2 separate regions of the Homo sapiens genome follow, and region 2 is linked to region 1. Evidence: fine-mapped expression QTL. A gene starts in region 1. The other region holds a variant in brackets. All regions are shown on one strand. Distances are from middle to middle. Region 1 holds the start of HMCES (5-hydroxymethylcytosine binding, ES cell specific). Region 2 overlaps H1-10-AS1 (H1-10 antisense RNA 1).

What was found. PIP is the estimated chance that this variant, and not a neighbour inherited with it, causes the effect.
Region 2: its variant is fine-mapped to the expression of HMCES in monocytes (TOPMed, PIP 0.98).

What each region holds. Positions count from the first base shown.
Region 1 is chr3:129,273,129-129,289,065 of GRCh38, forward strand. HMCES (5-hydroxymethylcytosine binding, ES cell specific) reads left to right here and starts at 5,742. Exons shown (of 7, transcript NM_020187.3): 1 at 5,742-5,777; 2 at 6,582-6,787; 3 at 15,726-15,869. The coding sequence starts at 6,605. It overlaps COPG1 (coat protein complex I subunit gamma 1), which reads left to right. Exons shown (of 24, transcript NM_016128.4): 22 at 1,710-1,848; 23 at 2,066-2,164; 24 at 4,166-4,645. The coding sequence ends at 4,296. RefSeq lists silencers at 5,597-5,946, 5,957-6,346 and an enhancer at 6,767-6,896.
Region 2 is chr3:129,318,377-129,334,313 of GRCh38, forward strand. H1-10-AS1 (H1-10 antisense RNA 1) reads left to right here. Exons shown (of 5, transcript NR_026991.1): 3 at 167-261; 4 at 4,974-5,228; 5 at 5,805-6,193. It also overlaps the pseudogene NUP210P3. Among named protein-coding and RNA genes, the nearest start is that of H1-10, 10 kb to the left of the region's middle. RefSeq lists an enhancer at 10,328-10,387. The variant G/A (reference allele first, on the strand shown) is at 3,722.

The DNA of each region.
Region 1 (15,937 bases):
TCTCTTGCCTCAGCCTCCCAAGTAGCTGGGATTACAGGCGCCCACCACCATGCCTGCCAAATTTTTTGTATTTTTGGTAGAGATAGGGTTTCACCATGTTGGCTAGGCTGGTCGCGATCTCCTCACCTCAGGTGATCCACCTACCTTGGCCTCCCAAAGTGTTGGGATTACAGGCGTGAGCCACCGCGCCCGGCCTAAAATAACTTTTTAAACTTATGGAAATACATGTTCATGTGTAAAAAGAAAACTTGGGAAATACAAAAACAAAATTCAAAACAAAGTATGAACAACAGGAAAACATTACTCATAATCCTTAGAGTTATTTTTGGGGGGAAGTGGTATAATTGAAATCATTCTTACAGTGTAGACCTTGCTATTTTAAAACCATAGTGTATTTTCCAGTATCATTACAAATACTTCATAAACACAATTTTTTTAGTGGATTTAAAATACTGTTATATACTATGTCAAAACTTGATTGACTTTTCACTCCTTTAATGTTGGGCATTTGGGTTTCCATATTTTCACTATTTATATTGCTGCATTAAATATCCCTTTAGATACAAATTTTTATCTGCATTTTAGATTATTTCTTTAGGATAGATTCCTAGAAGGAGAATAGTTGGGTCAAAGGGTAAGCATGATTTTAAGACATTTTGATTCCTCTTGTCAAATGCTTTCTGGATAAATTTGACCTGTTTGCTGTGCTGGGCAGTCCTTTCATGCACTGGAATAGCCCTTCTAAATTCTCCTATCTTAGCTCGGTGGAACTAAGTACAGGATCCTTCTGAGGTCTGACTTTGGGGCAGTGGCTCAGGGCCATCTGAGTGCAGACCATTATGCTCAGCCTGTGGATGGGGACTGTTAGAACTCCTCCTGACTAGAGGGACAGTCACAGTGGAATACAACTGACATTCGCCATTGTGTCATCCTAGAGTCACAGTTGAGGATGGATGGACCTTCCTTGAGCTGGAAATGACCCCGAGGCAGGAGCTGCTCTAAGACCAAGTGAGCTCCTTGAGAGAGCTGGGTCTGTTTGAGCCCATCCAGAGATGAAGAAAAAAAAAAAAGAGAGAGAGAGCTGGGTCTAAGTTGTATTTATATACACTGTAAACATCCACAGGAGTAGGGCCTCAGTGAAAATCTGATGGGAGAATGAATGGGGAACCTTCATGTAGACTCAGTGGGAGTATTATGTGTCAAGTTCAGGGAAGACACAGCTGAAATGGAGATAGAGATTCAGGATCTGTCAAATCCAGAGGACACAGCTGGGGTAGGAGGTTTCTGCTAGTTTCTGCTGAACTAGAAACAGCTGCTGGTCCTGAAGAGCTCATCATCCCCTAGGAGGGACAGGCATAGGAAGCAGACCTCTGAGAATGCTATGTAATTCCCTGCATGCCAGGTCCTGGAAGCACTGACACTAGGCAGGCTTAGAAGAGATGTGATCTCACAGCAGGCGGCTCTAGGCTGAATTAGTAGATTGGTACTTGGGATTAGGGCGTTTTCTGTTGAAGGGATACCATTTGCCTTTGGGCACCTCAAGGATAGGTACCTGGTCAAGTTGCTCTATGTCCCCAGAGTCTAGCACAGTCCTCAGTGCCGAGCAAGCACCTGTGGAAAGAGTTGCAGGAAGGGATGTGTGGATGAGTTCAGAGCAGAGGCCCGTAGGTGTGTAGATGGGTGCCTGATTTCTACCTCCATCTCTCCAGCTGGAAGATCTGGAAGTTACTGTAGCTGATCACATTCAAAAGGTCATGAAACTGAACTTCGAAGCAGCCTGGGATGAGGTAGGGGATGAATTTGAGAAGGAGGAAACGTTCACCTTGTCTACCATCAAGACACTTGAAGGTAAAATCCTGGGAATGCCATCTCTGGCCTAATTACTGTTCAAGATCTTTGGCTACTATTGAAGTGCTCATCCCTTTTCTCTCCAAGGATCCAGGGCCATGTCTGGAGCACATATGTCAAATGCCACTTCATTAAAAGCCCTTCAGAACATGGGGGAGTGGTGGTGGCACAAAGGGCAGATAAGATGGCTTAACAATATTGGGATTTCTCATTACAGAGGCTGTGGGTAATATTGTGAAGTTCTTGGGAATGCACCCTTGTGAGAGGTCAGACAAAGTGCCGGATAACAAGAACACCCACACGTTGCTCCTGGCTGGTAAGTGGCATTTCTAGATGGGGAGGGCCTGGATAGCTTACAGCCTGGATGCCACTGGATCCTGGGCTAAGGACTCCACTGTAAATATGGGGAGTCAAAATTCACAGCATTTAAAATTCACAAAGTATAAAATAATCTGCAGCGAAATGTTTCCTCCCTACCTTGGCTGCCAGCCATTCAGATTCCCTTCCGAGAAGCGACCAGTGTTACTATTACAAACAATACTTGTATAACCTTGCGGTTATTTTATGGCTATAAAAGCTAATAGGAACGCATTTCCTTTTTTTAACTCAAATGTTTATGTACAAATGGTATATATATTGTCCTCCGATTTGCTTTTCACTTTACATTGCATCTTAGAGATCTTCCCCGTCAATATGTAGAGCTTCCTCATTCTTTTTCTTTTAATTGTGGTAAAATATACATAAAATTCACCATTTCGACCATTTTCAAGTGTATGGTTCAGCGGCATTAAGTACATTCACACTATTGTAAAACTATGACCACCATCCATCTCCAGAACTTTTTTCATCCCAAACTGAATCCTCATTTTTTTTATAGTTGCTTAGTATTCCATTGTGTGGATGCACCACATATTCTATGGAACAGCCACTACTGATGAACATTTAGTTTGATTTCAATCTCTTGCTATTACAGATGTTACAGTAAATAATCGTGTACACACACACACACACACACACACACAGTTTACTTTGCATGTGTACACTGAGAATATCTGTAGGATAAATTTTCCAAGGCATCACCAGTTCAAAGTGATTTGTGTTTCTCATCTTGATAAATAACTCCAAGTTGCCTTCCATAGAATTGTATACCTTTCTTCCTACACTGTGGACAACATAATATGTTACCACACTTTATGATCTTTTCCAGTCTGTGTGGACAATGATATCTTAGTGTAGTTTTTGTATTTTCAATGAAGTTAAGTATCTTCTTAAATGTTGAGGCATTTGTATTTCCTTTTCTGATCATTGTCTTCATATCCTTTGTCTTATTTTCTACAGGGTTGGCTGAGTGTACCCACACTCATTCTCCTTCCCAGATTATTTACTAGCAAACTCCAGAAATAGCATTTTATATGTAAATCCTGTATCTGTATGTTTCTCTAAGAGAGAATGACCCCTTCCCTTTTTTAAAGGACAATACAATTATCATACCTAAAACAGTTAACAAAAGGAAATGGGATGATTTTTTTTGGCTGAGTGTTTATAAACAGGGTTGAAAGGAGGCTCTGCTTCAGTACCCTGCCTACAGCTGACAGTTTGTAGCCACATTGAAACAACCTAGTCCCCTGGGTCTTGCAGACACCTGCCCTGTGGTTTTCTCGTGGTGGGGCTGTCCCCTTCATTTGTGCTCTCAGATTCAGTCAACGTGCAAGAGCCTCTGTGACATGAGATATAAGCCTTTTATGTCCATCAGTTCATTTGAACTTAGCAGAAGCCTGAAATATGGTATTATCATCCCTGCCACTTTGTAGTTGAGGATACTGAAGTCCTGAGAGACAGTGACTTTCTTTTTTTTTTTTTTTTTTGAGACGGAGTCTAGCTCTGTCACCCAGGCTGGCATGCAGTGGCACAATCTCTGCTCGCTGCAACCTCCGCCTCCCGGGTTCAAGCGATTCTCCTGCTTCAGCCTCCCGAGTAGCTGGGATTACAGGCGTCCACCACCATGCCCAGCTAATTTTCGTATTTTTAGTAGAGATGGGGTTTCACTGTGTTGGCCAGGCTGGTCTCGAATTCCTGACCTCATGATCTGCCCACCTCAGCCTCCCAAAGTGCTGGAATTACAAGCGTGAGCCACCGCGCCTGGCTGAGAGACAGTGACTTTCACAGTGAAATCCCTCACTCAGGGATTTCAGCCCAGCTCTCCTGCCCGTTTCACTACACCAGAGCTGCCTTCATGGGTTGCTGCAAATGCCATCCTTAGCCTGCCCTGTACAGTCCCTTCTGCTGTATATATCTGTACTTCTCTCTTCCCTTCTAGGTGTGTTCCGGGGTGGTCATGACATCCTGGTGCGCTCCCGGCTGCTGCTTTTGGACACAGTGACAATGCAGGTGACAGCCAGAAGTTTGGAGGAGCTGCCAGTAGACATCATCTTGGCATCTGTGGGATAAGAGGCCAGCCTGCATAGGACCTCATACCCTTCCCCAACACTACCTGGAAGTTGTGCCTTCCTCATGAAACTGGCAGAAACCCCTTCCCAAGCTTCTGTATTGAAAAACAATTAGGAATCATTGCAGATTTTTTTTTATTCTGCTCCCACCTCCCACCCGGGACTACTTGCTGGTGACTTTTTTTTTTTTTTTTTTTAAATAGGGGATGATTTTAGCTTGTCCTAAATCTTGCTGTCCACCCTTCCAGGAAAGGGACATTGTAAATGAATAAAACATTCTCAACTCCTCTTGAATCTATCCCCCAAGAAACCATCTTATCCCTGTAATAAATCAGCATGTATTTATTGAATGATTGCTACTTCTGCAGACTCATGCTTCAGGGCTCCACCTTCCCCTTCAAGGCCTCCCCTAAAGAGGCAGAACACCTGCCCTGTCCCCCTTGCACCCACAGCCCTTTGGCTGTTGTAGTCCTGTGAGGCAGGACCCTCTCCCCGTCATCGCTGTCCCAGCACCAAGCCCAGGGGTGGGAGCGGTAGAGGGTGGTTGAGTGAATCAGCTAACAGGCAGAGTTCACACTCCCTCCCGTTCGTGCTTCTTCACAACGCATCCTCCTTTGATAGTCGATAAATGGAGGCTCCAAAGGGCTTGGGTCCTGTGTCTGATCGTTCCAGCATCTGGTCTTACATGGAGTGTGCCCTGGGGTTTCTGCTCCCTGTTCAGTTCAGCGAATCAGCATAGGCGAACAGCCCTCTAGAGCATTCTCTGTTGGTTGCAGATGAAGAATCTCCGGTTTAGGTCCCAAGGGGAGCAGGCTTTTAAACTCAAGCCAGGCTATTTTACCAACTTTGAGGCCAAAGTACACCCGAAAGGGCTGTTTTAAAAATCTGGGCCTCACCCTTAGAGATTCAGCTGAGGGGCTGGGGCAGGAAAGGCTTATTCTAGTGCCCACCAATGTTTGAGGGCGAAGTGCGCGATTCCTGGAAGTTCTTCTGACTTTCATTTCTTCAGTGTTCCTCCATTTTTGCCTCGCACTGTGAGGCAGCTGGCAGGACTGTGAAGTAAGGAGTGGAGTTTCCTGGTTTCCCGCCTTCCATGACCCTGTGCCCTAGACTCAGCGCGGCGGGAACCTTCCCTGCCAGCCCTGAAACACGCTGGGGGCGGGGAGGAAGGTTAACCCCGCCAGGGAACGGCCAATATGGAGGAAAGTGGAGTCCCGAGAAGCTTGGGATCGATATGTCTCCCAAGGCAGTCACTGTCTCCTGGGGAAACGGGAGAAAATTCATCCCAAACCGGAGGGGAGAAGACGCCGCCTCCGGGGCCCGAGGGCACCGCGGGAACCAAGGGCCCTTGGGGGCGGGGCCTGGCGCCGGGAGCGCGGGCTGAGGCGGGGCTGACGTGAGGGGCGGTGACGCGGGTGGCCAAAGCGGAGCGGAGCGGGGGTGAGGAGAGTCGAGGGAGGTGACGCGCGCTGCCGGGGCGAGGTGAGGGGAGGGGAGGCGACGCGGGCGGTCGGGGTATGGCGAGGGGAGGGGAGGGGAAAGGAAGCGACGCGAGCTGACAGAGGGGAGCAGAGGCCCGAGCGGACGCGAGGCGACGCGGAGAGGGCGGCCTGGGCCGAAGTGAGGCGACGCGGGGCGGCGGAGTCTGAGGGCCGGAGCGGAGCGGAGGCGACGCGGGGAGGGGCGAGGGATCGCGGCCGGTGGCTGGGGGCCACCTGCTCCCCGAGCACCGGCCCCCGCTCCGGGGAGCAGAGTCCGGAGCGGGATCCGCGGCCCACAGGTTCGCAGGTCGGGCCCGGGGACGCTGCGGACTAGCGGGCGGGAGGCGGGGATTCTGCACCCCGGCCCCGGGCCGTCCAGTGGCCGCCCTCGAGGTGACCGGTTGCTGGCCGGCGTGGGTCGCTGACCCCAGCGGGGACTGGGGGGAAGGACGGGGAGTTGGGGGCACCAAGTCACCCGGAGGAGGCGACCCCAGCTAGCTGCGCTTGCCCTGCTTCGCTGGACTGTGAAGCCCCCTCCGCTGCGGCTCTTCCTGCGCTCAGGCAGGCATTTGCAGAGCTCCTCTCGGGACTTGCCTCAGTGCCCTGCACGGAGCTGGGCAGTGGGCTCAGGGAGCGAAGCAAACGGGCACATCCTTGTCTTTGTGGGACTTTTTGGGGAAGACTTTAGACGGTGGTCACGGAGGGGCACGGCCCTGTGGGAACGGAAAGAGAAGGCGGGGACTCAAGGAATAAGACCTAATATTTGAGATACGTAAGCCTTTTCCTTACGTTTTGTAATTTAAAGGTTGCGAGGGGCGGTGTTGAAGAATGTGTGGGCGAACATCCTGTCACTTACCTAGAGATGTTCTCACGAGAGCTTGCGCCTACCAGGATCGGCGGGGCCAGCAGCGGCTCCCGGAGTGGAGGGACCCTGATAAGTACTGCCCCTCTTACAACAAGAGTCCTCAATCCAACAGCCCAGTGCTTCTGTCTCGACTGCACTTTGAGAAGGTAACCAGCATTGCACTATGCTAGCCCCTCGCCCAGCCTCGTGATGGTCATCTCCTATTTGGTTTGGTGTGTGCTCAGCCTCTTGGGATGACATTAAAAACCAGCCTTTACTGATATATTCTGACTTCCAGTTGAGAACCTCTCTTGGCCTCATGAAAGAAGTTTTATCAGTGGCTTCTAACACTGATAAAGACGTATTTTTCAGGCTCAATTTAAATGCCTTTGCTATACATGGCATACTAGCCTTAATATATGCCAAATTTATATGAGCTTTGTGTTTTAAAATAGCAGCTTTCACTGATCATCAGGGTCATTGGAGTATCTTAAAAATATAATAAAAAAATTTAAGGCCAGGTGCCATGGCTCATGCCTGTAACCCCAGCACTTTGGGAAGCCGAGGTGGGAGGATCACTTGAGCCTAGGAGTTGGAGACCAGCCTGGGCAACATAGGGAGACCCCATCTCTACAAAAAATAAAAAAATGAGGTGGGAAGATCACTTGAGCTGGGGAGGTCGAGGCTTCATGAGCCATGGTTGTACCACTGCACTCCCACCTGGGTGACAGATCAAGACCCTGCCTAAAGAAAAAATTTAAAAAAATAAAAAATTTAAGAATATTTCTATGCCCTTTACCAGGCCAGCTTAATCAGACTTCTCTAGGCCTAGGACAGGCTTAAGATCAGTTAATTTAAAACACTTCTGATGTTTCTTGAGCATTGAAAAGTTTTATTCTTTCTGCTTGTGTTTTCAATCTTTTTGTGTTTGTCTTTTACTAAGGCTAGAAACACGTATTTGGTTTGGTTATCTGAAGTTTAATTGCATTCATTGTGTTTATAGTATTTATCCCTGTAGTGTTGGAATTACCAGTCACTTACATTCATATTTTAGTTTTTTGCCTTATCTCCTGAAAGTGTGTGTGTCTTTGTATGTGTGTGTAATAAAAATGCTTCGTTCTAGAAAGTAATAGTTTCTCCATGTCTTAAATATTTTAAATGACCTTGACATGTTTTTAAAAATCGTGATTGTTGGCTGGGCACGGTGGCCCACGCCTGTAATCCTAGCACTTTGGGAGGTGGAGGCGGGCGGATCACGAGGTCAAGAGATCGAGACCATCCTGGCCAACATGGTGAAACCCTATCTCTACTAAAAATACAAAAATTAGCTGAGTATGGTGGCACGCACCTGTAGTCCCAGTTACTTGGGAGGCTGAGGCAGGAGAATCACTTGAACCTGGGAGGTGGAGGTTGCAGTGAGCTGAGATTGCACCACTGCACTCCAGCCTGGCGGCAGAGCGAGACTCCATCTCAAAAAAAAAAAATTGTGATTGTTTCCTTCCTGAATTTTGACTGTATTTGATTCATAATGCTGAAATCACTTTATAAAGTTGATTATACCTCTGGTACATACTCTTTAAACTTTTGTGATAATATGATAGTCAAAAAGGACTCATTTCTGCATTATAGGGAATCACATCATTTTGAAATAAAGATAACAGGCTGGGCATGGTGGCTCACACCTGTAATCCTAGCACTTTGGGAGGCCAAGACGGCTGGACCACCTGAGGTCAGGAGTTCGAGACCAGCCTGGCCAACATGGTGAAACCCCGTCTCTACTGCAAATACAAAAATTAGCTGGGTGTGATGGCGGGCGCCTGTAATCTCAGCTACTTGGGAGGCTGAGGCAGGAGAATCGCTTGAACCCGGGAGGCGAAGGTTGGGGTGAGCCAAGATTGTGCCACTGTACTCTGGCCTGGGCAACAGAGTGAGACTCCATCTCAAAAAGAAATAAAGATAACAAATAATGGCTGGGCACGGTGGCTCACGCCTGTAATCTCAGCACTTTGGGAGGCTGAGGCGGGGCAGTGGGATCTCTTGAGGTCACGAGTTTGAGATCAGTCTGGCCAACATGATGAAACTCTGTCTGTACTATAAAAAAAAAAAATGTGGAGGTTGCAGTGAGTCGAGAATGTGCCACTGCACTCCAGCCTGGGTGACAGAGCAAGACTCAGTCTCAAAAAAAAAAAAAAAAAAAAAATCAAATAATGTTCTTGGTTGAATGAAGCCATTTATATGACATAGTTATTTTTGTGTCATTTTTAGAGGATGCATACTTCCCTATTGAAACTTTTTGTTTTAAATGAGAGGGGAATCAAAATAAAATATTCTGGAGAACCTTGAAGGGGAAAAGAGAGCATAAAACATATTTCAAAGGAAAGCATAACTTAGAGTGAGAATAGAGAGCAGGATTAAGTGTATGAGCCTGGCCAGGCCTGGTGGCTCACGCCTGTAATTCTAGCACTTTGGGGGAGGCTGAGGCCAGAGAATTGCTTCAGGCCAGGATTTCAGGACACCAGCCTGAGCAAATGAGACCCTGTTTTTAACAAAAAAAAAAAAAAAAAGCCTTAGTCATTTATATGACCTCCTTAGAATTATAGAAAGTTAGCTGGAAGAAAAATTTGTCTAACAGATGTAAAGATAGAAGTATACATAGATTATGACTTGTCCTAGGTTACCTAATCAGTGAGGGACAGAACTAGAACTGAGATCCAGACCACCGTCCCCACTCCAGTGGATGCATCCTGGAACCAGGAATGGGGAAGGTGGAGCCACTAGCAAATACAGCCCTCATTTGGGCCAGTGGTATGAATTTGCTGATATAGTATTTGATTTCACATCTCTAACAAGTTTTATTAAGATTGCTATGGTTTCTTAATTTTGATAATATTTGATATCTCATTTTTCTCAGACCTATAAATTATAAAGCAAAATTAGAACCATTTTAGCAGTTCATTCAAATCATTAACAGCCTGCATATGTATATAGATAGCAACATTTTCATTTGAAACCACAGATTTGCAAATTACTTCCTGTTTCATTTATCCACCCCAGTGCTACCAGGTGTTCTGTTCAGAAGTCCAAAAGGGTAGAGGAAAGATGACTAATATTGAGCAATGGTCTTAGTATTTTGGCTTTTCAACTACTTTCTATTCGTCATTCTCACATTTGGATTTGGTTTACAGTTGTCAAGGGTACACTCTCAGCGCTGATCAGTGGAATTTGTGAGAGCAGAATTCTCAACCTTGACACTGTTGACAGTTTTGGCCAGGATAATTTTTTGTCATAGGGAGCTATTCTGGGCGTTGTAGAGCGTTTAGCAACATCCTCTACCAGCTAGATGTCAGTAGCATCCTCCACAATAGCATCCCCCAGATCAGAGCAACCAAAGGTATCTCCAGATACTGCCAGAAGTCTCTGGATGGTGGGGAGGGGTGTGTCAGAATTGTCCCGTACTGAGAACCACAGATTTTTTCAGTATTGTTGTCTTGCAAATTTCTGATGAAAGATCATTTAGTTGACCATTGCGTAATGTTGTCTCATTCTCATTTATGCACTGAGCTGGGGGTCCTTCTGCTTGGAAGACTTTTTTTTTTTTTTGGAGACAGGGACTTGCTGTGTTGCCCAGGCTGGAGTGCAGTGGCGCAATCATGGCTCACTACAACCTTGACCTCCCAGGCTCAAGCGATCCTGCTGCCTCAACCTCCCCAGCAGCTGGGATCACAGGCTTTTCCTTTTGACATTTTGAGGGGGAAGTTCTCACTGTGTTGCTCAAACTGGTCTCAAGACTCTTGAGCTCAGGCCAGGTGCAGAGGCTCACACCTGTAATCTCATTACTTTGGGAGGCTGAGGCAGGTGGATCGCTTGCAGTCGGGAGTTGTAGACCAGCCTGACCAACATGGTGAAACCCTGTCTCTACTAAAAATACAAAATTAGTCGGGTGTGGTGGTGCATGCCTGTAATCCCAGCTACCTGGGAGGCTGAGGCAGGAGAATCGCTTGAACGTGGGAGGCGGAGGTTGCAGTGAGCCAAGATCGCGCCATTGCACTCCAGCCTGGGCAACAAGAGCGAAACTCTGTCTCAAAAAAGAAAAATCAACCTTGAGCTCAAGGGATCCTCCCCACTTGGCCTACCAGAGTGCCAGGATTATAGGCTTGAGCTGCCAGAAGGCAAATTTGATTCTGGAAGAGAAAGAGGATTTATGAAATCTCTGTTTTCAACTGTTCTTTCTCACAAACACACACAAACAGTCCTCATTATTCTTAGATTCCATATTTCCAAATTCACCTACTCACTAAAATTTATTTGTAACCCCTAAATTCATACTCACTTTGCTTTTGCAATCATTGGTGCACATACAGAGAGCTGACAAATTTGAGTACCTTGATGTTTCCAGCTGAGGTTGATCGAGGCAGAGCTCTGCCTTCTTGTTTCATCTCTTACGTTATAAACAAGTATCTTTTTTGCAGCCAGTTTAGTGCCATGTGTGATTTCACTGTTTAAAATGATCCCAAGCATAGCACTAAAGTGCTGGCTGGTATTCCCAAGCTAAAGAAGGCTGTGATATGTCTTAAAAAGAAGATATATACATTGGATAAGCTTTAGTCAGGCATGAGTTATAGTGCTCTTGGTCTTGAATTTAGTGTAAATGAATTAAGAGTAAGTTTAAATTAGATGTCTTTAAACAGAAACACACATAAAACAAGGTCATATATTGATCAGTTGATGAAAGTGTCGTCACCAGATGCTGTTAGAAACATAACCTTGCATTTCCCTAAGAGCAGCAGTTCAGTACTCAAAGCAACTTTATGAAATCTAACTACTGCAAATAAAGGGAATCAACTGTTTGTGTGTATATATATGAAAAGAGAATTGGCCGGGCGCAGTGGCTCACACCTGTAGTCCCAGCACTTTGGGAGGCTGGGAGGCTGAGGCAGGCGGATCACTTGAGGTCAGGAGTTCGAGACCAGCGTAACCAACATAGTGAAACCCTGTCTCTACTAAAAATACAAAATTAGCTGGGCGTAGTGGCACATGCCTATAATCCCAGCTACTTGGGAGGCGGAGGCAGGAGAATCGCTTGAACCTGGGAGGCAGAGGTTGCATTGAGCTGAGATCGTGCCACTGCACTCCAGCCTGGGCAACAGAGCGAGACTCCATCTCAAGAAAAAGAGAATTAATGGATACAGCAGGCAGGATTCTGGAAGAAGCAGGACTGGATTTTATCAGCAGCACTATGGAGGGATTAGCTTTTAAACAAAAGGAAGCCCTTCTCCTGAGACTGCGACTACTGATGATTCCTTTCTTCAGATTCCATTCTCTCCTGACTTTCTTCGTTCTACTTTTATCTTAGTAGGTACTTCTACTTGGAACTCTGCTTTTACCCTAATTTCTTCTTTTAACAAAATTTTTTGTACCCTCAGGTTAAATCCTGTACATGATATACTCTCTAAGAAACTTTACCTTCATGGCATTAATAGTCATCTTTTTATAGACAATTTTATGATTTGTTTTTAATCCTTACCTTAGAAAAATACTATACTACAATTTGAGTGCCTACTCCATGCCACACATTTTAACTATATTATCTTTCATTCTTGAAAATTATCCCACAGGGTAATTATTGTTTGTTCTAATTTTTGGATAAGGAAAGTTGAAGGCCCAAGAAGTTGAGACTAGTCCAACCTCATAAGTAGCAGAGAAAGGATTTTTTTTTTTTTTGAGATGGAGTCTTGCTCTGTTGCCCAGGCTGCAGTGCAGTGGCACAAACTCGGCTCACTGCAAGCTCTTCCTCCCGGGTTCACGCCATTCTCCTGCCTCAGCCTTCTGAGTAGCTGGGACTACAGGCACTCGCCACCACGCCCGGCTAATTTTTTTTGTATTTTTAGTAGAGACGGGGTTTCACCGTGTTAGCCAGGATGGTCTCGATCTCCTGACCTCATGAGCCACCTGCCTCCCAAAGTGCTAGGATTACAGGCATGAGCCACCGCGCCCGGCCCAGGATTTTTTTTTTTTTCCATCAGAGTCATAGAGTGCAGTGGCACAATCTCAGTTCAATGCAACCTGCACCTCCCGAGCTCAAGCAATTCTCATGCCTCAGCCTCCCGAGTAACTGGGGTTACAGGCACACGCCACCACACCCAGCTAATTTTTGTATTTTTAGGAAAGATGGGGTTTTGCCACGTTGGCCAGGCTGGTCTCAAACTCCTGACCTGAGGTGATCCGCTCGCCTCAGCCTCCCAAAGTGCTGGGATTACAGGCGTGAGCCACCATGCCTGGCTCAGAGAAAGGATTTTTGAACCAGGATCTCCTTACAAAGACCTTGATCTTTCCTCTATACCAGGGATTGGCAAACTACGGTCCTCAGACCAAATCTGGCCTACTGCCTGTTTGTATAAAGTCTTATTAGACCACAGCTGCTATGGTTTGAATGTTTGTGTCCTTGAAAAATGCATATGTTGAAATCCTAACCCCCAAGATGATGGTATTAGGAGATAGGACCTTTGGGAATCAAAGCCCTCATGACTGGGATTAGTGTCCTTATAAAAGACACCCCAGAGATACCATGTGACAACATAGTGAGAAGGCACCATCTGTGAACCAGAAAGTGGGCCCTCACCAGACACCAAATCTGCTGGCACCTTAATCCCAGCTTTCAGAACTATGAGATAAATCATATAGTATCACTCATGCCACATTCTGTTGGTTACAAGCCCGTCCAGATTCAAGGGGAACGAACATAGATTCCCAATTCTCAATGGGAGGAGTGTCAGATTTTGCAACCATTTTTTGAAAACTGCCACAGACTTCTCACTAGTATCAGAAATTCAACATATGATCTTCATAAAACATTTCATCAGCATTTTTTCTTCTCTGTTCAGTAGTACCATCATTATTTCACTCTTCTGGGCTTGAAAACTTAATCATCCTTGCTTTTTTTCATCCAAATCCATTTGTACTACAATTTCTTTTTATTTTTTTTTAAATCTTTTGGATGTCACTGTTTTTCTCACTGCCATCACCAGACCCCTGAACCATTGTAGTAACACCCCAAAATGCACTCTCTGCTCACTGGTCTCTCCCAACCCAGAGTGTACTGTGCCATGCAGAATAATGTGTATGTGCTGCTTAATCTGTAGATTTCATCAAATTATCAAGGGGCCCATTACTTAAAAAAAGTTTGACAACCATGCGTTGGGAGTCCCCAAGACTGCCCCCATATTTAGAGATTCATTAGAAGGGCTAAGCATATAAGGCATAGTGTGTCTAAGGTTTATTAGTAAAAGGACGCAGAATAGAATCAGCAAAGGAAAAAGACACTAGTAGAAATCTGGAAAAAGTCATGCACAGGTTTCCTTATGTTTTCCTTCCTGTGGGAGGATACTGCAAGCATGTTACTTTCTCCAGCAACGAAAAATGTAGTAATGTATATGTACAGTGTTTTTGTTTTTTTTTGTGGGGTTTTTTTGTTTTGTTTTGTTTTGTTTTTTTTGAGAGAAGGTCCTGCTCCGTGGTCCAGGTTGGAGTGCAGTGGCTCAGTCACAGCTCACTAGCAGCCTCAACTTCCCAGGCTCAAGTGGTCCTCCTACCTCTGCCTTCTAAGTAGCTGGAACTACAGGTGCATGCCACCACACCAGAATAATTTTTTTTTTTTTTGGTAGAAACTGGAGTTTGCCATGTTGCCCAGGTTAGTATGTACAACGTTTATGCCCAGAGAAACCCATTAGAGACTCAGGGTCCGAGGTTTTTATTGGAGGCTGATCATGTAGGCACTCTACCAGATACCTAGCAGGTACCAAAATTTCAGACTCCCAGAAGGAAAACAGGTGTTGGCATAAACTTTATTGTTTACACAGACTAGGCGGAATAAACCACCCTTATGAGTTGGGGAAAAGTGGGAATACTCTCAAAATCTAGTTCTGAGTTGTTGAGGGCCAACCTTGTATATAGGTTTTCCTAAAAATAGCATCCTCCAGTGCTTTGAGAGACCGAGGCAGGAAAATCACTTGAGCCTAAGAGTTCGAGACCAGGCCAGGCACAGGGGCTCATGCCTGTAATCACAGCACTTTGGGAGGCTGAGGCGGGTGGATCACAAGGTCAGGAGTTCAACACCAGCCTGGCCAGAATGGTGAAACCCCGTCTTTAGTAAAAATACAAAAATTAGCTGGCGTGGTGGTGGAAGCCTGTAGTCCCGGCTACTCGGGAGGCTGAGGTAGGAGAATCGCTTAAACCCAGGAGGCAGAGGTTGCAATGAGCCAAGATCGTGCCACTGCACTCCAGCTTGGGCAACAGAGCGAGACTCCGTCTCAAAAAAAAATAAAAATAAAAAAATTCGAGACCTGCCTGAGGAACATAGTAAAACCTCATCTCTACAAAATTAGCTGGACATGATGGTGTGCACCTGTAGTCCCAGCTACTTGGGAGGCTGAAGCAGGAGGATCACCTGAGCCCAGGAATTCAACGTTGCAGTGAGCTATGATTGTGCCACTGCACTCCAGCCTGGGCAACAGAGCGAAACTGTCTCTAAAAAACAAAAAAGTTTAAAGAAACTAAACCTCTTTGCATCCCTCTACCTTATTCAAGCAGAATGTCTTACATTCTAGTAAATATGATTGCTAAAGAACTCAAGTTACCTACATCATGATAAGTCATTAAATTGTTTTTGGCTGGTTGTGGTGGCTCACACCCACAATCCCAACACTTTGGGAGGCTAAGGTGGGCAAATCACTTGAGCCCAGGAGTTCAAGACCAGCCTGGGCAACATAGCGAAACCCCATCTCTATAAACAATACAAAAATTAGCTGGGTATGGGGGGGCGTGTGTCTATAGTCCCAGCTACTTGGGAGGCTGAGGTGGGAGGATGGCTTGAGCCAGGAGGTAGAGGTGGCATTGAGCCAAAATAGCGCCACTGCACTCCAGCCTGGATGACAGAGCCAGACCTTATCTCAAAAAAAATAAAAAAATTGTTTTCAAGTAGATTCCCTGTTTAAAAATAATCTTGAATTCTTTATATTTCAATACTCCTAAATAATGTAATAAATACATATGTTAAATTAGGTTAGAATTTCATTATGATCTCCTCACTAGATCTTCTCTCCGTGGCAGGATGCAGACTCATCTGAGCGTATCATTGCTCCCATGCGCTGGGGCTTGGTCCCTTCTTGGTTCAAAGAAAGTGATCCTTCCAAGCTGCAGTTCAATACTACCAACTGTCGTAGTGATACCGTAATGGAGAAACGGTCATTTAAGGTAGGTGGCTGGTAGCTATTAGTGCCCCGTATACCTCAGAAATAAGGTTCCAAAGGGTGTTTCCATCC
Region 2 (15,937 bases), 45 kb after region 1:
GTGGGTCCTGGTGGGAGGTGATCAGATCATGGGAGTGGATTCTAATGGTTTAGCACCATTCCCTCGGTGATGTCCTCATGATGGTGAGCTATCATGAGATCTGGTTGTTTGAAAGCGTGTTGCACCTCCCCTGACTCCCTCTCTTGGTCCCGCCCCTGCCATGTAGGACACCTGCTCCACTTCACCTTTTGCCATGAGTAAAAGCTCCCTGAGGCCTCCCAAGAAGTTGATGCCCTGTGCTTCCTGTACAGCTGCGGAACCGTGAGCCAATTAAACCTCTTATCTTTGTAAATTACCCAGTCTCAGGTAGTTCTTTATAGCTTTGTGAGAATGGACTAATACAAGGGGCTTGAGCTTGGGTCTTTTGAAAAGTTAAAGGGTGAGCAGAAGCGATACCCCTGAAGGAGTCCCAGCCATGGGCAACAGGGCCATCGCTTGGCCTTTTGTGCAGCCACCGCAGGGGGGAGGAGTGGCATGCTGGACATGCCACTCTGGAGCTGGCTGCAGCCACAGGCTGGGCCAGGGACACTCCTGGGTCATCTGTGCTGGAGGAAGGGGATGCTCTAGTGGAGACAAAGGGACAGGGTCACGGAGGAAGGCGGGACCCAGGTGTGGCCTCCTTCATGACATCTGAGGAGAGGAGATTCGAGAGAGGAGGGCTGGGCACCGCAGCCAGTACAGCCACTCACAAAGTAGAGCCGCAGTCCGGGCACTGAGGAGAGCGGCCAGGCTCGCAGCCACGGTGCCCCGGGGGACCTGGCTGGGACTGCAGGGGAGAAGCAGTCAACACAGGGCTGGAGCCCTGTGGGCAGGGCAGTGCTGTCCAGTCCCGGGGGGAGGACACGGAGGATGCAGCTCAGACCCCACACCAGCCTTGGTGGGCACACGGGCTGGGGGCCGGCTCCTCAGCCTGTGAGGGGAGCGGGGCTTTTGTCAAGAGGGAGGCTGCCTGTGGCGCAGGGCTCAGAAGACTAATTCTAGACTTTGGGAGCTGGCATAGACTAAGTGGGATCTTCCACTTGCCCTCATGATATGGTAGAGGCAACTGAGGCTTGAGGAGGGGGTTAGCCAGGAGACCAGGACTCAGGCTGGGGTCTTGCAGCCTTCAGGGTGCCTCTTACCCCCACACTGCTGGTCATCCCTTCTGCATTACCCCACCAAGGAAACTGTAGGTGGGGAAGGTCCCAGGTCCTCAACCAAAAAAAATGGCCAAATATGAGAAAAGGAGCTTCTGGAAGTGGCCAGGGCCTAGCAGAGACCAGGGCAAGACCATGTGCCCAGCACCTGAGTCGCGCCCTTCCCTGGGCCTGGCCAGTCTGGAGGAGGCTCTGGCTTGTGAGCAGTGGGGTTTCTGGGGTCGGAATCTGGAAGGGGCTCTGTGGCTGCTGGGCTCTCTCTCTCCTCCTTATCTAGGGGATTGTTCAGTCCTGGGGCTGCAAACACCACCAGTACCCTGATGATGCAGTTCATTTCCCTAGCCCGAGGTCAGCCTCTCTCCCGTGCAGACCCCAGCATCCCGCTCCTCTTGCCACCCTCACCTGGAGCCTGGGTGTGGCCAACACAGACCCTGCTCCTCCCAAACTTTTGCCAGTGATTCTGCCCAGAGACAGGGACTGCTCCCTGATTTCCCTACTCTCTTCCAACCCATGGCTTCCTCCCCATCTACCCCAGAACTGGTCCCACAGCTGCCGAGCCCCCACCCTCTCTACCCTTTCCACCCAGCCTCCTGTTCTGTCCGCACAGCCCCAACACAGAAGTCTGAGTGGTGGGTCCTGGCTCTGCCAGAAGGTCTCTAATGGCTTCTCACCAGACGTAGGGTAAAGTCTCCCAATGCCTTTGCCACTGGCCCCTACCAAGGCTCTGACCGCAGCTCCCCAGCTGAGCACTCAGCCTCATAGCCTTTTTTGCTGCCCACACATACCCAGAGGGTTCTCAGGACCTGGGACTTGCTGGGGTGGCCCCATGGCTGGCTCCTTCCCTGGCCGGCCTCCCTAGACCCCTCCCTAGGGCTCCTACCAGAGCACCCTCCCTGCCTGGCTCACAGCCCCTGCCATCTAGTATGTCCGTTGAGTTGTGGGCTGTGAGCTAAGTGCAGGGTGGGGGAGGTCATGCTCCTAGCTGTACCAAGGCGGGGTGGACACAGTGCGCTCCCGACACAGACACACCTGCAGCAGCAGCGGATGGGAGGATGGGGGTCAGGAGCTCCTGGCTGGGCTCTGACCCGGGCTGTCCTTCAAACGCTGGGTGTGATCCCTTCCCCACCACCACTGCCCAGCCTCAGTCTCCCAGTTTGTATAAAGGGGCTGGATGTATGGAGTCTGAATGATCCAGCTCGACAGTCTGATTCTGGGCTTCCAGACACACACTCACCATTCACACCTACAGTTCACACACACAGACACCTACTCACTCACACTCAGATTTACCTTCACACACGCTCACCATTCACAGCCACAGTTCACACCCACAGACACCTACTCACACATATTTACCCTCACACATGCTCACCATTCACACCCACACTTCACACTCACACTGATACCTACTCAGTCATGCTCACACACACTCACACCATTTACACTTACAGTTGACACACGTACACATCACCTACTCACACACAATTTACCCTCCTACTCACATGCTCACACACCATTCACATAGTTCACATTCATACACACACCTACGCATCCATTCACACATATATGCACACACACTCATACCCACACATTTATCCTCACACATACCATTCACACCCACAGGTTCACACACATTCACCTACTCACACCTGTCATCCTCTCATTCACATGCTCACAAAATGGTCACACAGTTTACCCCTCACACCCACACACTAACCCATTCACACTCACAGATTCGTACACATACACCTACTCAGACACATCATCCACCCATTCACGTGCTCACACACACATGTTCACACAGGCATGTGCCCTTCACACTCATAAGCTCACCATCACATACCCTTCACACCCACAGGTTCACACACGCATTCACATGCTCCCACTCACTTCCCTCACACACATATGCTCACTGATTTACACAGCCACTCGCACTTATACATACTCGCTCACATTCACACAGGCTCACCCATTCACACACACTCGACACATTTACCCTCACATTCACCCACTCACCATTCCCACTCACCAGTTCACATGCACTCACCCAAGCTCACACTTGACCACGGACACACCCTCAAACATAGGTGCTTACACACAAGCCAACACACACTCACCTAGCCATTCATACTCACGTGCACCTATACCTTCACACACATCCTCACATACCCACACAGCTCTACACATACCCACTTTCTTACACATTCACACACATACCTATAGACACATTCAAACACACCCATTCTCACATCCTCAAAAACACCTGTGGCCACTTACTCACTCACACACAAGGTCGATGCCAACTGCAGGGAAAAACGTGGTGTCAGCCAGGGTCTGGCTGGAGGCTCCCCCTGCCCTCGCCCTCTCTGTCCTGTCTTGTTTCTGCCCTCATGTTCTGGGGACCTCGAGACTGACACACACAAACACACATGCCCATGACAGAGGCCCCAGAATCTGGTGGCACCTCGCAAAGCTCAGGCTGCAGTGGGCAGAACCCCTGGCCACCGAGCCAGCTGCAGGGCGCTGCCTCCCTGACCAGACACAAGCTCCCAGCACACACCCCTGCCCACTCCTCATCATCTGCT[G/A]GGAGGTCAGCGACCGCACCTCTGCTCCCAGACCAGAGGAAACAACCCTAGAACCCAAGGGGCCAGGACGGTGACACATCTGAGCAGAGAGCCAGTGCCAGTGCATAGAAAGGACACCTGTCACCACTCCATGGGACAGCAGGACTGATGTGCCCTGCACTGACCACGAGGACTCGAGCCCTGTCTAACGCGAGTCCTGCTGGCTAATGCCACGTGCAGGCAGGAAGATCAAAGCAGTGACACGTCCCATGTGATGGGGTTGGAGATACTTATGCCTTGAATTTGAATGTTTTCTCTAAGAGCATATATCTATATATCTATATCTATATACAGATATATATAGCTTTCAAAACATAACTTTTAGAAAAAGAAATGTTAATGAAATTCAAATCTGTATTCCAGAATATTCCAGAATTTATTGTATTTTCTTTTCTCTATTTTTTCACTATTGGTTTTTGTTGGGCTTTTTCCTGATTACAAAAAATGCATTGCTATGATGGAAACCTCAGGAAATAACAGAAATCATAAAGACTGTGATTTAAAGTAGGCCACTAGAGAGTAACGTTAAAAGTAACAGAATGAGGCCGGGCGTGGTGGCTCATGCCAGCACTTCGAGAGGCCATGGTGGGAGGATCACTTGAGGTCAAGAGTTCGAGACCAGCCTGGCCAACATGTGAAACCCTGTCTCTACTAAAAATGCAAAAATTAGCTGGACATGGTGGTGTACACCTGTAGTCCCAGCTACTTGAGAGGCTGAGGCAGGAGAATCACCTGAACCCAGTAGGCAGAGGTTGCAGTGAGCCGAGATTGTGCCATTGCACTCCAGCCTGGGTGACAGAACAAGACTCTGTCTCAAAAAAAAAAAAAAAAGTAATAGAATGGACGAAAAGCCACAATCCTATGGAAACACCAGAGGAATGCACCCAGAAGTGGGGGTCTCATGTAGCTTTATTGTGTACTGATAAGTACTTGTCTTTGGTTGCCATGGAAACGTCAAGATGTTGGGATACAGGGTGATGGGGATGTGAATTTCCACCTCCTGCTGGTTCCACACAGGCACCCATAGTGTGTGGACCCCTCTATCCTACAAGGGGTGAGGGTGCCACACATCACTATGACAACCATGTCATCAGCAGTCTTTCCCAGTCACTGGACCCCCACCCCTCCCTGGGGATCAGGCCACAAAGGTGGATTTTGTGGGAGAGTGGAGAGGAAGTTTCCAGACACCCTGCCACCCTCTCGTTCTCCACAGGGATGGCTTTCCGTGGCTTTGCTACAGCCACTCCTGGAAGTGCTGCCTGACTGAATCCTCAGGGCACCCCGGCAGGATGGACGTGGTGTACCCCCTACTTTACAGATGGGGAAACTGAGGCTTGAGAGCTAAAGCAGCCCACCCAGCTCCCAGAGATGAGGAGGCCGACTCTGGCAGGAGTCACTGTCGGTGCATGGGCATTTCTTCCTGTTACAGCCTGCGGCCCCTTCCAGGCCGGGAGGCCTTCTGCGCAGGGTAGGAAAATGGGAACACCCAGGCCGATTTTCCGATCAGCAAAGCTCTGCTCCCTAAGGCTGATGGGCTTCTTAAAGACAAAGGAAAAAAGAACCCAGGATGTAAGTAGCCCAAACAGGCAAAGGGACACTGGTGGCCCAACTCGACCCATGGCCCTCCTGGGCTGACATTTCTGCCTACAGAGGAGGGCTTCATAGGCCAAGGCACGACGCAGGGGAGACACCAACTTGCCTGGTCCACCACAGAGGTGAGGGCCGCGTCAATGGCCATCTGTCCCCTCTTTAGTGCCCTGACGTGATGGTATGACCCATTCTGGGAGGCCGAGAGCACCTCAAAGAACTCAGCAGGAAGCACAGTTTCAATTCAGAAGTTCTGGAAGGCGAGGCAGGACAGGTGAGAGGTGCTTCTGGGGTGACTCCAGAAAGTCAGAGTTTGGGCAAGAAGCTACAGAACTGAAACCAGCAGCCGGGCCAGGCCAAGGGGCCCCCTGGTGTTCAGCAGCCTCCACTAGCAGCAGACGGGCAGGTCAGGCCCTGGAACAGAGCTCTAACCACTATGGCCTTTGTCCCCACCCAGGGCACCCTCCCTGCATGGCCCGATGACCTGCACTCCTGTTTCATCTCCCCGTGTGGCACCTGGGGCAGCTTGGAGCCTACCAAGGTCTCAACAAGGAACCAGTAAATACCAAAAAAAGGACATCACGTCCCCTACAGCTAACTGCAAATGGTGACCATCCCAGCCCTTGTTTGATAACACAAGCAAAGCAATGGCTTCTTCAAGGACACCGAGAGGAACCTCACCTCTTTCTAAAACCTCCAACACAGGGCCAGGCGCGGTGGCTCATGCGTGTAATCCCAGCACTTTGGGAGGCCGAGGCAGGTGGATCACGAGGTCAGGAGATCGAGACCATCCTGGCTAACACGGTGAAACCCCGTCTCTACTAAAAATAAAAAAAATTAGCCGGGCGTGGTGGTGTGCGCCTGTAGTCCCAGCTGCTCGGGGAGGCTGAGGTAGGAGAATAGCGTGAACCCAGAAGGTGGAGGTAGCAGTGAGCCGAGATCACTCCACTGCACTCCAGCCTGGGCAACAGAGCAAGACTCCATCTCAAAAAACAAACAAACCTCCAACACCACCTGGAAGGGCCTGGAGGCACTCACTGATGAGCCTGGAATTTCTCACAGGGGACAGAGAGGTGGCCAAGGCTCCTGCACATTTCCCCATCTGTCTGACACCCCTTTCCAGAACCAGAAAGCGTGCTGAGCTCGGCCTCTGTCACGCAGGGTTCCAGGTATTTCTGGGGCTCAGCAGGGAGAAGGCCAGGACGTGCTCCCTGACTCTCGGCAGGGCGGGAGAAGAATGAATCCTCTGAGGTCCCCAGCTTGGGGAAAAGGGGGTGGGAGAGTGGCGGGCAGAGACCTCCTCCGTATCCCCCTCTCCTGAAGCCCTGCCGCTGTGGCAGCCCTACAGGGACTACAGGGCTCCAGCCCTACAGGGACTCTGCGGTGGGGCGGGTGTGCAGGCTCACAGGCTCTGGAAATGCCCCAGGATGCCTTGGCAGTGTCTCCCACAGACCCAGGAGCGCCACTAGAAACAGGACCCTTCCTCAGTCATCCTGCATGGGGGCTCCTGTTGCTTTGGGGGCTGCTTTCCAGCAGCTGCGTCAGACAACGACCCACCTCATCCCCCCAGCCAGGACCTGAACAGGCACTGACGTCAGATACGTAGACCTTGTTGCTGAACTTGTCAAAAACTTCAATGGTGATTTCATACAGGCGGCCGGTCTCCAGCACCCACCTATCACCAGGGTGAATGGTGAACCCTAAAACAGGCAGGGGGAGCCTGAGCACTCAGGCCTCAGGGGCAGCAGGGTGGAGGAGGATGGGACCACCACCCTCAGCACAGGGGCCCTCAGCATCCACATGGGAAGCCCCACTCCACCCACCTGTAGGCCCCACACCACCCACCTGCAGGCCCCACACCACTTACCTGGAGGCCCCACACCACCCACCTAGGGGCCCCACAATTATGGCGCTGGCCTCCTCCACAGAGAGGGACCTGTTGCTGAGGAACAGATGCCTGATGCCGCCTTCAGCCCTGAGTCCTGAGCTGACCTCCCGAGGACCAAACCTGGACTCATCCCATTCTATCTGAACAAGGCTCCTTCAAACTTGTTCCTGTTCCTCAGTGGGTCTACACTCAGAATCCTAGCAGCTCTGTCCTTAACACACAGCAGGTCTATGCTCTGAAGTGATAATAGATCTATAGTGTTCACAGTAGAACTAGTCTGAACCTTCAGGGGGTCTGTGCTCTGAGGAGGGATGGACATAGACTCCAAGAAAGTGATGATTCTGGAAAAGGAACGCGTTGTTAAAGTTTGTTGATCAAACCCAGACACAAGGTCTGTCAGAATCTACCACAGCATTCCCTATCAGCCCCTCCCACTGGGGCCAACACTGAAGAAATAAGGGGTGTCCCGTTAGTCAGGGCTGGGGCTACCTAGAGACATGTCCCTGCAGCTTCCTACATCAGATCTGCCCATGTCCTTGTGAAAAATGCAGATGCTTGGCCCCTGGCCCAGGCTGTGTCTGCAAGAAGCCTGGGAAACTCCATTTTATCCACCTGCATACGTGATGGAAACACTGACATGCAAGACCAGCCGCTGAGTCCACACAGGAACAATGAGGCCTGAGAGATGAGGCAACAGGCCCAAGAACACAGCCCAGCCGAGGCCGGACCAGCAGCGCCCTCGCCTCCCTGAGGCTGCCTGCTCCTGTCCCACCTCCCTGGCCTACCACCCAGCTCTGGGGAACGATTCTCCATGACTGGTCCCTTAGCCCTGGGGACCGGACGGCACCACGTCTCACTCTCCCCAGATCCCAGCTTGGGGAGATGTCGGGGACGTGGTGTAGCATGGAGTGTGGGCTGCTGGGCAGGCTGACTTCAGGGATCCTTCCCACGCAGCCTCCCACTTCAGCCTGCATTTACAAACGAGCCCACTGTTCCCCTGCACAAGAGCAATCTGCCGCCATGCTTCCATCTCCCCAGCATCTGCCGGTGCCGGGCCACGCCGTAATTTATTTCCTCGCCTGGTTACTCTAGGTGTCACATGTCAAATTGACCACAAATCCAGGACAATCCAGCTCCAACCTGCCTTGGTGTCTGGGATTTCTGTTATCATTCGGCTCAGGTGCAGAGCTGCCTGGAAGCTTGGGGGGCCTGACATGGCAGGGGACGGGGCTGTCAGAAGGGGACAGGGAACCAGCATCCCCTCAACATCCAACATGCGCCAGGCCCAGAGAGGGGCCCTGAGCGGATCAATCTGCCGAGCTGGGCATGGGATCCCCTCCAGCTCTGTTTCCCAGGGCAGGAGGCTGAGGCTCAGGTGGGTAACGTTCCCTGGCTAAGGCCACAGGCAGGAAGTGACAAGGCCAGGACTGGAATCCAGGTCTCTGACTCTCCGGCTCGTGGTCATAGTTTTACAAAACACCAGAAACTGCAGAGCTGGTCCAGAAAGCTCTGCCTCCAGGAGGGCGACTCAGCTCTCAAAGGCATCAGGACGTGAGGACGTCTGCCTGGAGTCACCGTGAGCTGAGTTCTGGAGAAGGTTGTGATGGAGGAACCACCACGTCCCCATCATCCCCTACGGCCCAGAGCTGGACTTTAATGGCGTAATTGTGGGCGGATCACGAGGTTAGGAGATCGAGACCATCCTGGCCAACATGGTGAAACCCCATCTCTACTAAAAATACAAAAATTAGCTGAACGTGGTGGGTGCCTGTAATCTCAGTACTCAGGAGACTGAGGCAGGAGAATTGCTTGAACCCGGGAGGCAGAGGTTGCAGTGAGCCGAGATTGCGCCACTGCACTCCAGCCTGGTGACAGAGTGAGACTCCATCTCAAAAAAAAAAAAAAAAAAAAAAAAACCAGAAGATGGTAAACTCCCCAACAAAGGACTTATAATTACAAAGGGGTGAGAAGGTGACTTCCCCAGATCAGAAGCAAGTGGAAGAATGGAGTCTCACTTCGGTGATATTCCTGCCAAAGACGCAGTGCTCAGAGCCTGGCCATGAGGGAACAGCAGATAAACCCAAAATGAGAGCTGCTCTACAGATAACCAGACTGTCCTCTTCACAAGTGTCACGGTGTCCAAAGTCAAAGCCCAGGAGGCTGTCCCGGGCTGACAGAGACTAAGAGAAACAGGACACATGCGGCAGGTGACTCAGGGCTGGGGTTTTTCTTTTTGCTGAAAGGGATAAAACTGGGACAAATGGCTGGGCACGGTGGCTCATGCCTGTAATCCCAGCACTTTGGGAGGCTGAGGTGGGCAGATCATGAGGTCAAGAGATCGAGACCATCCTGGCCAACATGGTGAAACCCCATGTGTACTAAAAATACAAAAAGTAGTTGGGCGTGGTGGTGCACACCTGTAGTCCTAGCTACTCGGGAGGCTGAGGCAGGAAATTTACTTGAACCCTGGAGGCAGAGGTTGAAGTGAGCCGAGACTGCACCACTGCACTCCAGCCTAGTGACAGAGGGAGACTGTCTAAAAAAAAAAAAAAGGGCTGGGCCAGATGTGGTGGCTCATGCCTTTAATCCCAGCACTTTGGGAGGCCCAGGCGGGCAGATCACGAGGTCAGGAGATTGAGACCATCCTGACTAACACAGTGAAACCCCGTCTTTACTAAAAATACAAAAAAAAATTAGCTGTGTATGGTGGCGCGCGCCTGTAGTCCCAGCTACTCGGGAGGCTGAGGGCAGAAGAATCGCTTGAACCCGGGAGGTGGAGGTTGCAGTGAGCCAAGATTGTGCCACTGCACTCCAGCCTGGGCGACAGAGTAAGACTCTGTCTCAATTTAAAAAAAAAAAAAAACCGAGACAAATGAGCAAACTCGAATGAGGTCTGAAGATGGTCGGCATCAGTGTTCGTTTCCTAGCACCATAACTGCACGGTGGCCATGCAGGACAACGTCACTAATGGTCGTAAAGCACTTGAAAATCATCAGGGTGATGGGACATGAGGCTGGCAACCGGCTTTCAGGTGAGTGAGGGAAACCTCTTTTTGGACTGCGCTGGCAGATTTTCTACAGGCCTGAAGTTTCTGCAAAAGGAGACTCAAACATGAAAATGAAACTTTAAAAAAAGGCATCGTGCTCTTTAAAAATCACATAGCAAAACTAGAGGCAAGCAGCACAGTCAGACCTGGGGCCTGCACCAGCGCCGGCCAAGGACCGGTGTAGCTCTGCTCCTGCCCTGTCCCACAGGTGGCAGCACTCGCCGTGCAGCCAGTGAACCCTGGACTGGAGGCTTATGCATCTCAGGAACTGAACTGCTCAATTTCTTTTCTTTTCTTTTCTTTTTCTTTTTTCGAGACAACGGAGTCTTGTTCTGTCGCCCAGGCTGGAGTGCAGTGCTATGATCTCGGCTCACTGCAAGCTCCGCCTTCAGGGTTCACGCCATTCTCCTGCCTCAGCCTCCTGAGTAGCTGGGACTACAGGTGCCTGCCACCATGCCCGGCAATTTTTTTTTTTTTGTATTTTTAGTAGAGACGGGGTTTCACTGTGTCAGCCAGGATGGTCTTGATCTGACCTCGTGATCCGCCTGCCTCAGCCTCCCAAAGAGTTGGGATTACAGGCATGAGCCACTGCACCCGGCCAAACTGCTCATTTTCTAACTACACGTAAATAGCCCTGGGGCCCGTGGCTCCCACATGAGAGTGCAGATCCACATGGATCTGAGTTCAGACTCCAGCTCTGCCCTCCCCGAGCTCAGACAAGCGGCTTGGCCTCTTCAGGTCTCAGCCTCTACGACTACTCAATGGAGAGCACAGTGGTGTGCAAGCTCACGTGGCTGCTGGGAGGATAACACAGGTCAAGAAGTTTAAGGCATCCATCTCACAATGGGTCTGTCTACACCACTGTGGGCGACTTAGCCTGTTACACCTGAGACCGGCGGGCACAGCTGGCCCATGCCCCAGCAGAAACCTGGCTGCCCTTTAACTGGTCCCCCAGTTACGAGGACAGAACATGAAGGTTCTGCTCCAAGTCCTGAAAGTACAGAGGGAGGGGCCGGGTGCGGTGGCTCACGCCTATTATCCCAGCATTTTTGGAGGCCGAGGCAGGCGGATCACGAGGTCAGATCCAGACCATCCTGGCTAACACAATGAAACCCCGTCTGTACTAAAAATACAAAAAATTAGCCAGGCATGGTGGCATGCGCCTGTAATCCTAGCTACTCAGGAGGCTGAGGCAGGAGTATCGCTTGAACCCAGGAGGCGGAGGTTGTAGTGAGCCGAGATCGTGCCATTGCACTCCAGTCTGGGCAACAGAGAGAGACTCCATCTCAAAAAAAAAAAAAGAAAAGAAAGTACAGAGGGAGAGGGCCGACTTCTCACCCAGCACCCCGCACTCACTAGATGGACTTTGCCTCCAAGATCAGGTATCTGCCTATGAGAGAGTTGTGTCTCACCAGATTCCTTCCCCTGGAGGTCAACACCCAAAAGTCAAACCAAAATCTTTTGTGTATCATTCCCAAGAGGTGAAACATAATCAAAGGCTCTGAAGTTTGCTGTGGCAAAGGCAGGAAAGATCTGGTGCTTTGAGAAAGACCATCTTTAAATACTATGATGGCAAACACAGCACACTCAGAGCCCAGAGGCACCATCTCTGTATGCCGTTAAAATACAAAAAGAACAAATCAGATTTTACACATTTATTTCTGATTTCACAGCTCCCTTCCAAGGCTTCATAGCCTCAAGTGTAACCCTCGTGCTCCCCAGCAGCCTCTCCCATTGGGTCCTACCTGGAGTGGAGTCCCCTACCTCCCGTCTTCATCCTCACTGCTGCGTGCACCACATGGTGTCCAGGGGCCACAAACATCAGCAAGAAGGGTATTCCAGAGAGTGACTCACCCATCCCTCCTACTCCATTGAGGTCACATTAGATGACACAAGATCATGCTTCTCTGTCCTCTGGGCTCTCTTACCCTCCCTGGGCTCTATGGAGTTCGAGACCATCAATGAGGCGTTGCTGACAATTGTAAACCATCAAGTGAGAAGGTCTCCTTTCCTCCTCTCACTTCCCCATTTTTGCTGCAATGTTACAGCTCTCGCTACAGACTTACCTACCTGGAATTCTAACCGTGATGGAAACATTGTGAGGTAGATGAGCTCATTCAACAGACCTGGGCTGGGCTCAGAACAGCTACCCAAGTGTTCTGTGCAGAGGGAAATGCTCTCTGTGCTGTTGAGTGCTATGGTCAGTGGCAAATAACTCCTAGGGACACATGAAATGTGGCTGTTGAACACAGTGTTTTCTTGCACTCTAATTAATTGAATGGATTAATTAAGTTAGTAATAAGGAGCACCTCCCGGTAGTGACTGCCACACAGAAGAGCGCAGCTTCAGAGATATAAAGATGAAGAAGACATGATTCTTCTACCCTGGTGTTTCCTTGCAGAGTAGGTGTCTGCTCTGATCCAATCATCCATTTATGGGAGCTTCCTGGGCACAGGTACAGGGGCCAGGCCCTCTGTGAGGCCTGGGGATGCTGCAACGGGGAGGACAGCATCCAGGTCGAGGGTTCCCAGCAGGGGCTGCACTTGTACACAGAGGTGAAAAGCACGGACCAGCAAACCCTGTCCAGACAGGATCAGAGCAGCAGGGACAGAGGGGATGGGGACAACTTACTGTCTTCAGGAGCCCACGCTCATCTCCTCTGACCCTGGATCAGAGCCCGAGAAAGCACCTGGATTAGTGTGGGGCCCAACAGGCTAGACAGGGTGAGGATGAAACCCTTCCATGCCTGAGCTAGATCTCAGCCCAGCGATGTGCTTATCAGAACCTCTGGGAGGACTAAGTTGGGCTGCCCAGGGCTGAGCTCTGGGATGACAAGGAATGAGGAGGCCTCAGTTCTTGCCCTGGCAGTGACCAGCCATGGCTAGGATTCACTCTTGCTTAGATGGAGCACAGAAATCACTGTGCAAATGGCTGTGGCTGGATTCAGGTGATGATGGCGTGCTGACTCTTCTGAACTTTAAAACCCTGGAATCCATCCTCCCCCTCCCATCCACACATGGCCTGGACACTCTTGTGACTTCCCTCAGCCCCTCTGTACTCCTCCCTCTTCAGGTCCAGCCCAGGGCCCTGAGCCCTGCCTTCTCCCATGGAGTCCATGGGTGGCTGTCTCGGAACTCCTAGAGCTCTTGGTCTTGGTGTCACTCATTTGAACATTTAATCCCTCACAGCAGATGTCTCTTCAGGCACCACTGGGAAACTGTTCTAGACAGTGAAGGTTCTTGGAGAATCTTAGTATGAGAAACATGTTCCTTCTGGGGAAAGTGATATTTTTTCTAAATTGAGCAGTCTCACTTATTTTTGTTTTGTGGAGAAAAATTTTGACACCCACAGAGCAAGCAGATTCTATTAAAACAAACTGTGTCACACAGTATTCATCATCAAAGGGATTCTGAAGCCATGATTTTGCCTCATGTGATATTTTATGCTTACTTCAACAAACACCTTGACTTGTTTCCTTGAAAAGGAGTTCAGAAGCAACAAGAACCTATTTCAATTAGTGGGTCCTACCAGGCCGAGTGGGGATCGCCCTGCAACCCCCGTGGCTGAGTTTATCTTTCTCCACCTTGCAATGCACACCCTACTGTGTCCTCCTCCTAGGAAGGAAGCCACGTCTCCACCCTGAGGCTGGGTCCCTGAAGAAGCCCCTTGTTTCTCCTTCATTCTATAGTGTGTGTTGCTCCACCACCCAGAAGCCATGATTGGTGTAAGTAACGGGAGAGATTATGCACATGGAAATGGAATTACCTATTTTCGGCCACATTATCTGAAGTGGAATAGTAGACCTCAGTTGAGAAAGCTGGAGGGAAATTGCCCCAGTTTGTCTAGAGTCTCCTCGTTTCTCGGAGTCCTCCCAGAACTAAGTGAGGGGCTTACTGTAGAAAGAGGCCCAGCCTGGCAGTCCTTGTGTTTACGATGGGGAGGGTTAATTCTGAGGCTTCCTGTAATAAAAAGGCTTGGGGAATGTGGAGACGTATAAGGATGAAGCATCAATGGGGAGACTCCTCCTCCTTGAAATCCTAAAGTGTTTGAGGAGCAAGGACTCTGGGGTTCCTGCAGTTTCTGTCTTGGCAAGTGTTCCACACAGAGGGGCTCAGGAACAGGATTAAAATCCCAATTGATGCCAAACTCATAGTAGAAGCTTAGAGTCTCTCCCAGGAAGTAGATAGAGGTGGGAAGAAAGTGCATGGGATTCGGAATCAAAGGGTTAATCTAAACCTGTCACCTAATGGTAGTATATTTTATTCTATAGATCAAATAATTATTTGAATTTTATAACAATACTCAAGACATGCAATTCTTGTTTAATGTATTAAAAACATTTAAATGTTTGGGAGATCGAGCTGGGAGGATCGCTTGAGCCCAGGAGTTTGAGACCGGCCTGGGCAACATAGCAAGATTCTTGTCTCTTTAAAAAAAAAAAAAAAAAAGCAGGCCGGGTGTGGTGGCTCACGCCTGTAATCCCAGCACTTTGGGAGGCCGAGGTGGGCAGATCACGAGGTCAGGAGATCGAGACCATCCTGGCTAACATCATGAAACCCTGTCTGTACTAAAAATACAAAAAATTAGCCGGGCATGGTGGTGGGCTCCTGTAGTCCCAGCTACTCAGGAGGCTGAGGCAGGAGAATGGCGCGAACCCAGGAGGCGGAGCTTGCAGTGAGTGGAGATTGCTCCACTGCACTCCAACCTGGACTGCCTCAGTGAAGGTGGCAGAAGTCATGAAATACACAGCCATTGAAAATCTCTGGGATGATGAGGTCCAGAGATCTCATTTGAGATCAGGAGTTCGAGACCAGCCTGGCCAACATGGTGAAACCCCATCTCTACTAAAAATATAAAAATTAGCTGAACGTGGTGGTGGGTGCCTGTAATCTCAGTACTCAGGAGACTGAGGCAGGAGAATTGCTTGAAACCGGGAGACAGAGGTTGCAGTGAGCCAAGGTCGTGCCGTTGCATTCCAGCCTGGGTGTCAAGAGCAAAATTCCGTCTTAAATAAATAAATAAATAAATAAAAACTAAAATAAAATCTCTGGGATGATTCCAAGGGCACACAGCAAATGAAGAAGCGTTTATTAAGAAAACCTACTAACACCTGGGAAGAACACCAAGGGCCTGCAGTGTGTGAAATAAGATGCCCGTCCTCCCTGACTCCCCACCCCAGTGAGGGGGGCTCCACTCCAGACTGCTTTCTCCAAGATCACAGGACTCCCTCACCCCCTAGCTCCTGCCTGGGAGATTTGCTTGCTAAGAGGGGCAGAATGTTATCTTTTCTTATCATGCCACCAGCTACCGCTTGCTGAGACCGCTTGCTCAGCCCAGGAAAGTGGGTTGAGAGGTGGAGGCTCTTGTCTTCCACACAGGCCCCACTCATGGGATGGAGGCTCTGCCTTGAGTGCAGCACCCATGAGAATACTGGGGCCCGGCCGCCCTTCCCTGGCTCATGGGGTGGGGTTCCCTGCTAAGAGAGGACAGCCGATGAACACTGGGGCTACTGCCCCATTCACCAAGCACCCAGCTCCTGATGTGCAGGTGTCACCAGAGAGAGATGCACCACTGTGTCCAGCACCATAGCTCTGGCTCAGAGAGTTTGCCTGGGAAAGCAGCAGGCAGAAAACAGAAGGTGTGAGTAGCTTTTGAA